Regions from separate parts of the Homo sapiens genome. Here region 2 is linked to region 1. The links come from fine-mapping of genetic effects on gene expression. Tissue or cell type: whole blood. Region 1 holds a variant in brackets; the other region holds the start of a gene. All regions are shown on one strand. Distances are from middle to middle.

What was found. PIP is the estimated chance that this variant, and not a neighbour inherited with it, causes the effect.
Region 2: it holds the start of CHSY1, and the variant in region 1 is fine-mapped to the expression of CHSY1 in whole blood (TOPMed, PIP above 0.99).

Annotation. Positions count from the first base shown.
Region 1 is chr15:101,148,357-101,153,503 of GRCh38, reverse strand. LRRK1-AS1 (LRRK1 antisense RNA 1) reads left to right here and starts at 1,665. Exons shown (of 3, transcript XR_001751724.2): 1 at 1,665-1,784. The variant G/A (reference allele first, on the strand shown) is at 2,981.
Region 2 is chr15:101,250,006-101,255,152 of GRCh38, reverse strand. CHSY1 (chondroitin sulfate synthase 1) reads left to right here and starts at 3,105. Exons shown (of 3, transcript NM_014918.5): 1 at 3,105-4,016. The coding sequence starts at 3,697. RefSeq lists silencers at 2,641-3,020, 3,191-3,500, 3,691-4,120.

The DNA of each region.
Region 1 (5,147 bases):
TCCTGGCCAGCTCCTGTAAAATATACCCTACAAATTAATACATAAATCCTACAAATTAGTATATTGAAAAGTTTGTACCTTTATTTTGTGTTTTAGTAAGAATATAAAATAAATAAATAAAATAAATATAAAATAAAATAAAATTAGTTGTATTAGTTAGGGTGACTGCTGTAACAAATAGACCCCCCAATGCCTGATGGCTCAAAAACAATTGAAGTTGATTTCTACCCACCCCAAAAATCCTAGCCAGTGCAGGTCAGCAGAGGCAGGCAGGGAGGACGGGAGGCCGGGCTCCCACAGTCATTCCGGGACCCGGCTGCCAGGGGCTCTGCCAGCTTCAGCTCAGGGCTTCCGAGGCTGCCCTGGGCCTTGGCGCCCAGACAGCTGGAGGAGGAAGGATCTCACAGGGCAGAGCTCTCCGGTCCAGGTCCGAGAGCCATGGTGTAACTTCCACTGAGACGCCGTTGCCTAGAGCTGGTGCCCATGGCCAGACCCCTGCAGGGCAGATGGGAAAATGCAGGCTAGCTGTGTGCTAGGGATGGAGGTGAAGTGGGTTTTGAGTAGGGTGGCCCATGTAATTCATCCTTCAAACCAGGACCTTGCTAAGAGTGAAAGGTGTGATCAAGTTGTGCCAGAAAGGCAGGCACCAACTGAGACAGGACAAACGGTCACCCTGGGTTTGTGAGCAAAAACAGGCAAAGACAAACAAGACAGTGTTCTTATTTTCCTCATTGCCTGTAGAAGAGGAAAGCATGCGACCCGGCCTGTTCTACGCTTGGTTGTATTTCTCACACTTGTCAATATACCCGGGTCTGTTTATGCAGACAGCCTCTACTGAGTGGTTGTTTTTGTTTAACTTTTGCACAATGAACCTTAATGCATCTTTGTTTATTGAGCCAGTTCCTACAGATGGACACAAGTCATTTCAGCCTTTTCAATCACAAACAATGGTGCGGTGTTTTATACTGCACAGACATCATTTTAGGTCCAGTTTAAATAGTAGTAGTGTAGGCCAGGTGCGGTGGCTCACGCCTGTAATCCCAGCACTTTGGGAGGCTGAGGTGGGTGAATCACCTGAGGTCAGGAGTTCGAGACCAGCCTGGCCAACATGGTGAAACCCCGTCTCTACTGAAAATACAAAAATTAGCTGGGTGTGGTGGTGCGTGCCTGTAGTCCCAGCTACTCGGGAGGCTGAGGCAGGAGGATTGCTTGAATCCGGGAGGCGGAGGTTGCAGTGAGCTGAGATCACGCCATTCACTCCGCCTGGGCAGCAGAGTGAGACTCCATCTCAAAAAAATTAAATACATAAATAAATAAATAGTAGTAGTCATGAAATGAACACTTATGCCTTTACCATCTGTGAACATATGCATCTCAGATTAATGCATTATAGAGTTTTTCTTATTTCTGTACTTTATATAAATAAGATCAGATTCAAGGTATTCTTTTTGTTATTTTTCTTTTCTTTCTCTATTTTTTGATTTGGGATCGTTCTCTGTCACCCAGGCTGGAGTGCAGGGGCACAATCTTGGCTCACTGCAACCTGGAACTCCTGGGCTCAAGTGATCCTCCCGTCTCAGCCTCTCGAGTAGCTAGGACTATGGCCATGTGCCACTACACCCTCTAAGTTTTCTTTTTCTTTTTTTTTTTTCTGTAGAGATGGAGTCTTGGTATGTTGGCCAGGCTGGTCTCAAATTCCTGGGCTCAAGTGATCCTCCCGCCTCAGCCTCCCGGATTGCTGAGACTGCAGGCCTCTTTCGGGTGGTCATTCTGGCTGGCTGCAGGTATTCTTTTTAAATTCTGTGTTCTCCTCACTGTTGCTCAAAATTATGATTTTTGACACATGCGTCCATTGAATGAATGTTAGATTCCATTGAATGACTGTACAGTTTAAAAAATAGTTGAGTTTACTTTTGAGGGTTCTTTGGACCATGGCCAGTGTTTTGTGTTTTGGACCGTGCTGTACAGACACTCTCTGTCCTTTCGTGCCCGTGTGCAGCGTTTTCACTGTGGTTACGCCCGACAGCAGATGTGCTTCCTCTCAGGACAGGTATGTATTTCCTGTTGCTTCCCATTCTCCTCTTGACTTTCTTTTGCATTTCAGGCTAAGCAGCTTTTCACGTCTTTGCAATTTGAGTTTCCTCATTTGTAAATGCCCCTCTGAGTCTTTTGCTCATTTTCCTATTATATTGTTTATCTTTTCCTTATTAGATTAGCGGGGTTCTTTCTGTATTTTGAATACAAATTCTGTGTTGCTCATTATTGTTGAAATATTGTCAGCTTGTGACTTGTCTTTTCCCTCTTTATGACGTCTTTTTTTACTTTTATTTTTTATTTATTCTTATTATTTTTTATTTTTTAGTAGAGATGAGGTTTCGCCATGTTGGCCAGGATGATCTTGAACTCCTGGCCTGAAGTGATCCCTTTGCTTTGGTTTCCCAAAGTGCTGGGATTACAGGCATGAGCCGTAGCACCCGGCCTTTATGGTGTCTTTTGATAACAGAAGTTCATAAATGTAACGCGGTCAGGCTGGTCGATCTTGTCCTTAGGGTTGGTGCTTTTTGGTTTTGTGCTTGAGGATCCTCCCCCAGCTGTGGTCCCAAGCACCCCCTCACCCAGAGCAGGCAGTGACTTGGATGTTTGGGTAGCGAGCTCTGGGTCAAGTTCCTGGCCCACACCTGCCAGGAACACTCAGCTCTGACTTGCCGTGGAGCCCCCTGTGCCTACTTTGCTGTCCACCCTGGGTGGGTGTGCCCCTGATGCACTGCTGTCAGCTTCCCCTTTGGATCTGGAATTTTATTTTTCTGTCTAACGTGCTTGTCCCCGGTTGGACTGGCCTGTATTCCTTGGGCAACCCAGCAGGTGGCTTGGCCTTTGGACAATTAGCTCCTCTGCTCCCCTGAGGAAGGGAAGGAAAGCCCCAGCGAGTGGTGGAGTTGGCTTCCGAGACACTTTCCAGTGACAGGTCTCTCCGGAGCTG[G/A]GGTCTCAGGGCAGGGCCTGCAGGGAAACGTGGACTCACTGGGGAGGAAGTATAGCTTGGCTCTGGGTTTGACGACAATGACGATGGTGACGATGATGATGACGACGATGCTATTTTGTTGTTGTTTTGGGGTTCACAGGAGCTGAGAGGAAGAGCAAGGGTTTGCAAATGAGGAAGAAAGCTGGGAAGTGGTTTCATGCATTTCCTCCTCTCTCCACGTGCCAGAAGGTGCCACTCGGAGGCTGTCTTCCCAGCCTCTTGAGGACAGGCAGAAGTCCTTGTGGCCTCAGTTAAAGGAAAGAAGAGAGAAAGAAAAGAATGAAAGCAAGAAAAGGGGCCAGGAGGGAGTGTGAGCTGCAATCCCAGCATCCTGACATGTGCCCTCATGCCTGGTCACATGCAGGCACGTTGCACGCCCGCTGGGCACAGGCCGCTTGTGTACCTTGGTCACTTATATTCTTAACAGCCATCCAGGACCCCGTCGAGTGCATAATACAGCCGTGTACTAATATAGCCATCCTTAGCAGCCGTCCGTGCACTAATACAGCCGTGCGGGTGGGCTGCCGTGCGCTAACCTAGCCGTCCTTTTGATGTTGGGCATGGGGTCATTTCCAGGGTCAGGTTAGATGTTCTAGACAGACCCAGCAGTGGGTAGCTTTAACTAGTACTTTAGTCCTTCCTTTCCATTATTTCCTTAAGCTACATTCTCATAAATGAAATTTCTGGGTAAATGATGAATATTTTTATGGTTTTAAAAAGACAGCATCAAATTTCTTTTCAAGGACAGGTGCTAATTTGGAAAATCCCAAATACATGTATCTATTAGAGATGGCATCCTGCTATATTGCCCAGGCTGGTCTTCAACTCCCGGCTTCAAGCAGTCCTCTTGCTTTGGCCTCCCCAAGTGCTGGAACTACAGGCGTGAGCCACAGTGCCTGACCCCTCGTAATTTTTAAAGATAGAGTGGGGCAGGAAAAGCTCACCAGAATGTCTCTCCAGCCCGTGAAGGGCTCCAGTCTTGGTGTCTGGAAGGCTCTAATCAGCAGCTCTGTTTTTACGGGGCCAGGCTGGAGCAGACAGGAAGGCTTTATGCTATCTGACTGATAAGGTTGTCTGGGGACTGTTTCCACACCACCGGTTTCTGTGCTTGTTGCTGTGGGCTTGGGTCTGGGGACCTGGGACCTGGCACGGAGCTATGGGGGCTCTGACTGTCTCAGACCCTGCCTCTGCCATCTTAGAGCTCACACTTTAGGTAGGGGGGAATGAAGCAACCGGTGCTCTCTAAGCAGAGTCGGGAAGCCTCATGTACCCAGGGCCTTGCTTTGGCCTCTCAGGGGTCGCAGGCAAGACTGGCTTGGTCAGGCCCAGAGGGTGCCCTGGGAAGGTGGGCCTCTCAGTTCAGGCTGGAAGCCCAGCTAGGGTGGTCAGGCCCTGAGGGCTGGAGGTGTAGGTAGAAAGGTGCCCTCAGGGAAACAACAGAAACGCCCAGTCCAGTGGCAATAAAGCCCCAAGGACAGGCAGGCAGTGCAGGGCACCCCCAGGCCGCCAGCCCAGAACCTTTCCCACTGGGGTCTGGGCCTTTCCATGGGCAGACAGAGCCCCACGGGCCAGGGCTGAGGGATCCATTGTCCCCACACTAGCAGGGCCCCTGACCCACTCGCATCCAGCAAGCGCGGCTGACCTTTCTCTGGGTGCTTGGCCGGAATCCAAGCCCATTCTTCCGAGCACCTCAGAGGGGGGTCAGGGCCTCAGCAGGGACCTGATCAGGACCTGAGGGTGGACAGTTTCACTTTCCCTCAGATACAGGGTGGGAGGCTATTTGGGGACAGGAGCCCAAAAGGGCCTGTCTGCTCACTCAGACCAAAAGTGGGATAAAACCAAAACCACTTCCTGGGAGGACAGCGTCTAGGGTGTCAGAGCCCGACACCGCTGCCCTCCACGCCTGCCTCCGCTGAAGTGGGTTCTGGGGGCTCCGAAGGTCAGCAGGGTTCCGGACGCTTTCCTGGGACTGCCCCTCCCAGCTGTGCAGGCTCAGAGGCTCCTCCACCCACTCCAGCATCCACAACAACAACAAAAATAAAAATAGCTCACACAGGACTTTCCCCATCCCAGCTCTGTGGTAGATGCCACTCTCATTACTCCCATTTTACAGATGAGGAAACTGAAG
Region 2 (5,147 bases), 100 kb before region 1:
ACAAAGTTGCCATCTGTGAGAAAATGCTCAGTAAGGTAGGTGGCGATGAACTTTAATAATGTGTCATAAAGAGTCACACTCATGAACACAGAAGGGAAGTTAAGTGATCTGGGATTTTTGAACACATTTCTGAATACTGGTCTGGAATCACTATGGAGGACCGTTTAACGTGATCCAGCAGAAAGACTCATTTGGAGACAGAGCCGGACTCCCGGAGCCCCTCCAGGTGGAACTCACTCCACGCAGAGCTCAGACTCGGTCCCACACTCCTGATCCCTGATCCATCACAGCCCACCTCTTGGGCCACTCCTGTGCCATTGGGACTTTCATGGAATAACTACAGTTAAGGGCTTCCTTACAAGTGTTCCTGGTAACAGTTAATACCTCCCCTTCTTTTATGATGAGAAAAATGGTCAATGATTCCCTCAACAGAGAAGGCCAGTAGCACAGTGAAATCAAGAAGCCCGGAACATGAAAAGTCTTTCCTCAGCTCCCTGCAGTGAAATCCCTATAAATGCGAATCACCCTGCCTACTCCTTACCTTTAAAAATTACTTAGGGTGAGGGGGCTTTAGGATGAGGACAGCCTTGGCCTCCAGGGGGCTGTGGGGAAGGACGCATGTGTGTGCATTGGGGGCAGATGTTCCAGACCCTCGTTGTCCTCCCTGGCTCCTTGCTGGTATTGACTAGTGGGGCTGGGCATGGGACAGGCCTTCATACTGGGGGTACCAGTCCTGTCCAGCTGTTTGGGTCTCTGGCTGTCACTGAAGTTCTTGATTCCAGGTATTTGCTACTGGCTGTGAAATCCCCACTTAGGATAGCCTTGTCTCCTGAGCCAGGCCCCTTACTGGGACACTTTTGGATTCTTCCCCAGGAGAACTGCCTCAGCTCAACAATCCAGCTGCTCCTTCCAGATGTGCTAGAGCTTGCCCTCCTGCTCCTAGGCTGCATGCCGGAATTGGTCCCTGCCCCTGGCAGACTTCTACAGGACCTCAGTTTCTCTCTTCTCCTTCCAACCCTCTCTTGGCCTGGCATATCCCTCTTCTCCCAGAGGGAGTTCCCGTATGTCTTACTCTCCTTCTCCAGGGAATTGTAAGCCCTCAGGCTCAGCCTTTACAAAGAAAAGGGTATCCTTTCTACATTACGAAAGACCCCCATTAAGCCTGCAGGTGAGACAGGTGAGACTGTTAACCTAGGAACTGAGGGACAACTAGGAACCAGGATATTGAGGAGGACAAAATATTTGGCATCCTCAGAATATTATTCCCATCAGATATTTATATACTTTTTTTTTTTTTTTCCTTGAGACGGAGTTTCGCTGTTGTCGCCCAGGCTGCAGTGCAATGCAATGGCACGATCTCGGCTCACAGCAACCTCCACCTCCCGGGTTCAAGCGATTCTCCTGCCTCAGCCTCCCGAGTAGCTGGGATTACAGGCATGCACCACCACCCCCGGCTAATTTTGTATTTTTAGTAGAGTCGGGGTTTCTCCATGTTGGTCAGGTTGGTCTCGAACTCCTGACCTCAGGCGATCCGCCCGCCTCAGCCTCCCAGAGTGCTGGGTTTACAGGCGTGAGCCACCGCGCCCGGCCAGCTTTTCACTGGACACTAGTTTCGAAGAAAACTAGGTAAGTCTAAAGCAGGTTAGAAAATACTGAAATCGTTGAATATGCTACAAAATTGAACATCTGAATCTGGCCAGATTCGTACTTCATGTAAATCACTGTGAATGATGGGGCTGCTGAATTTGGGGGATCTGGTGACTCCTCGGCATTTGTGGTTTATGGTCTTAGTGGAAACCTTTTTCGATGGTTTTCGAGCCTGTAATTCATGGTTGTATGTTCTGTATTTTTCCCAAGACCACTGCTGGAATCCTGTATTCACTGCATAATGAGTATTTTATTTTTAGATGTGGATCACCCCTTAGGGAGGGGCTCTGTGGGAAGGTAGGTAATGAACTATTTTTAATATAAATCACAAGTGTCAAAGAAAGTGGTAATATCCAAAGAATAAACAAGAGTGACCACCATTCAGGTGCCGAGAAGGTATCTGAAGCTCCCACAGGCATTTTAAACTGTGTGATAGTATTTCAACCATTTGGTCAACAATGAAGAAAGATCCAAGGATTGCCCCAGGCATGTGTTTATTTGATTCAATGCAGGTAACTTCTCAGGCCCAGGGAAACACTTTGCCCTTCAAAAGTTTCATTAGAAAACCCCAATATACTGGTGACTAAGTAACAAGACTGAAACTCTACACAAACTTTCGTTGTATGGAGACCTCCGCTTTTGCTGCCTTAGCTGAAGTATTGCAGAGGAAATGTATAAAACTTAAAATCCAGAGTAGAGGATCTGGGACCCAAAATCCGTCTTTAGAAATCCACGGCACTTTTACAGACGGACTATATTAAAGTAGGGACAAAGTCCCAGGCTGGGGGTACTAGCCGGCTATCTGCCCACACAGTATGTAAATGAAAGTAGGGTTTACCATCCAGGGCATTAACTTCATTTTCCTTGTCTTCGAGATCCATTAAATGCTAGTACTGTATGAGAAGCGTGGACCTTAAGTATTAAAGATGGCTTTTTCTTCTTCTTCTTCTTATTTAGCGTAGAAACTAGCAACAGGGAACAAGGTAACTGAATTCACGGTCCACTCGCAGGCGCGCACGTCCCCAGGGCTCCGGGACGGCTGTTCCCTGCGTGCGGCCGCGGGACTGCGGACAAAGCTGCAGTGTGGTCGGGAGCGCGGGGCCGGGAGCGCGGGGCCGGCCCGGCGGCAGGAAGGGCGTGGCCGTGGGGTGCAGCGAGGACGGCCCGTGCGGGAGGAACGTGCGCAGCGTGGAGTCTGGGGGCCGAGAAGCCCCCACTGCAAGGCTGGCTCCCGAGATTCGCGCCCGGGCGCCGCGGTGCGGGAAGCGGCCGTCCTCGCGGGGACGCCCTTGCGCCGGGTGCTAGGTGCGGATCACGGGCAGCTCCGGCCCCGCGGGCGCCGGGCGGGGGCCCACGCCCCCTCCGCCCGCCAGCTCCAGTCGCAGACCGCGCGGGCGGGGCGCCCGAGAGGGCTTTTTTTTTTTTTGGTCAAACTTCGGCCACGTGAACCGCCCCTCATTCACTTTTGCGCCAATCGCGCGGCGCGGACGGATCCCGAGAGGGGCCACGGCTCGCCGCCGGCGGGGCCACTTCATAACGCGCCGTGCGTGACGTGAGGGGCTCCTGTTGCAATGGCGAGCTAAGCCGGAGGATGTGCAGCTGCGGCGGCGGCGCCGGCTACGAAGAGGACGGGGACAGGCGCCGTGCGAACCGAGCCCAGCCAGCCGGAGGACGCGGGCAGGGCGGGACGGGAGCCCGGACTCGTCTGCCGCCGCCGTCGTCGCCGTCGTGCCGGCCCCGCGTCCCCGCGCGCGAGCGGGAGGAGCCGCCGCCACCTCGCGCCCGAGCCGCCGCTAGCGCGCGCCGGGCATGGTCCCCTCTTAAAGGCGCAGGCCGCGGCGGCGGGGGCGGGCGTGCGGAACAAAGCGCCGGCGCGGGGCCTGCGGGCGGCTCGGGGGCCGCGATGGGCGCGGCGGGCCCGCGGCGGCGGCGGCGCTGCCCGGGCCGGGCCTCGCGGCGCTAGGGCGGGCTGGCCTCCGCGGGCGGGGGCAGCGGGCTGAGGGCGCGCGGAGCCTGCGGCGGCGGCCCGGCGGGCGGAGCGGCGCGGGCATGGCCGCGCGCGGCCGGCGCGCCTGGCTCAGCGTGCTGCTCGGGCTCGTCCTGGGCTTCGTGCTGGCCTCGCGGCTCGTCCTGCCCCGGGCTTCCGAGCTGAAGCGAGCGGGCCCACGGCGCCGCGCCAGCCCCGAGGGCTGCCGGTCCGGGCAGGCGGCGGCTTCCCAGGCCGGCGGGGCGCGCGGCGATGCGCGCGGGGCGCAGCTCTGGCCGCCCGGCTCGGACCCAGATGGCGGCCCGCGCGACAGGAACTTTCTCTTCGTGGGAGTCATGACCGCCCAGAAATACCTGCAGACTCGGGCCGTGGCCGCCTACAGGTGAGCCCCTGCTCCCCGGGCACCGCCTCCTGCGTCCGGCATCCCGGCGGCCGGCATCCCGGGTGCTCTCCTGGCTCTCGCCTCCGCCCGCTTCCTAGGCCCTTCTTGGGCTTCCGGCGGGATCGGGTTGCCTCTCGGGAGACGCCGGGCCGAGGGAGAAAAGATCAGAGGCGGGATGGTGAGCGCGGCGCTCAGGAACATGGCCTTTGGGGTCAGATGGACTAGTGTGGCCTCGCTGGGTGTACCTCTCACCCTGATGAAGGCACTTTAGCCTTTGCAAATCGAAGCTTCTCGTTAGAAGGGCCCGACAGATCGGGTCTCCCTCATAATGTTGGAAAACTCATAGCACAGTACCTGATAGTGGAGGCAGTTGGGGCTGATACTGGATTCCCTAAAATGTGCACCTTTGTCCTTGCAAAGCTGGAGCCCGTGTACGTTAATCTAGTTCTAGAACCTTTCCACATCATACTCTCACATTTCGCAGTTGGAGGCACTCCTATAAATGAAAGAGAATGCCCGCAGCATATTGGACCACACCAGTCTGTTGAGTACAGAGAGAGAGAACCTTGGGGAAAAGCAGTTCTTGGCCCTTGGTAGATTCAGTGGAAAACTGCATTCTGGTGTTAATTAGTTCAGCTTGGTGGTGTATGCATGTTATCCAGTAACTGGGCTCTAGTTGGCCAAATGAGTCATAAAAGCAGCTGGAATTGTGTTCAGGTTTAACAAAGGGATTAGCCAATGTAGTCTCTAGAAGGGAGATGATTTTGGAATGGCTGGCATGGTTAGAATCAGATTTGTATTGGAGTGAATTTGAAGTTGGAGAGGGTTGTAGACTCGATAAAGGGATTTGATGGAAACCCTATATGTGTGAAGTATAGAGACACTTACTGTATGGATAAAGTTTGGGTCTTATCCAGCCACAGAGCAAACCAATGTGGGGAATGGTTTTAGAGCATCAGTTGTCTGGTAATGAAATTTCAGAGCAGCCAGTGCTGAGCCAGGCTAAGCTGGTTGCTGTTTGTTCTTATAACCAATACCTTTACACTTCAGTTTTTAAATGCAGTCTTGGTCAGATTTTTCAGGCACTAGATGTTGTGAGGGGAAAAGCATATATGGTCTCCCTTGCCTTTA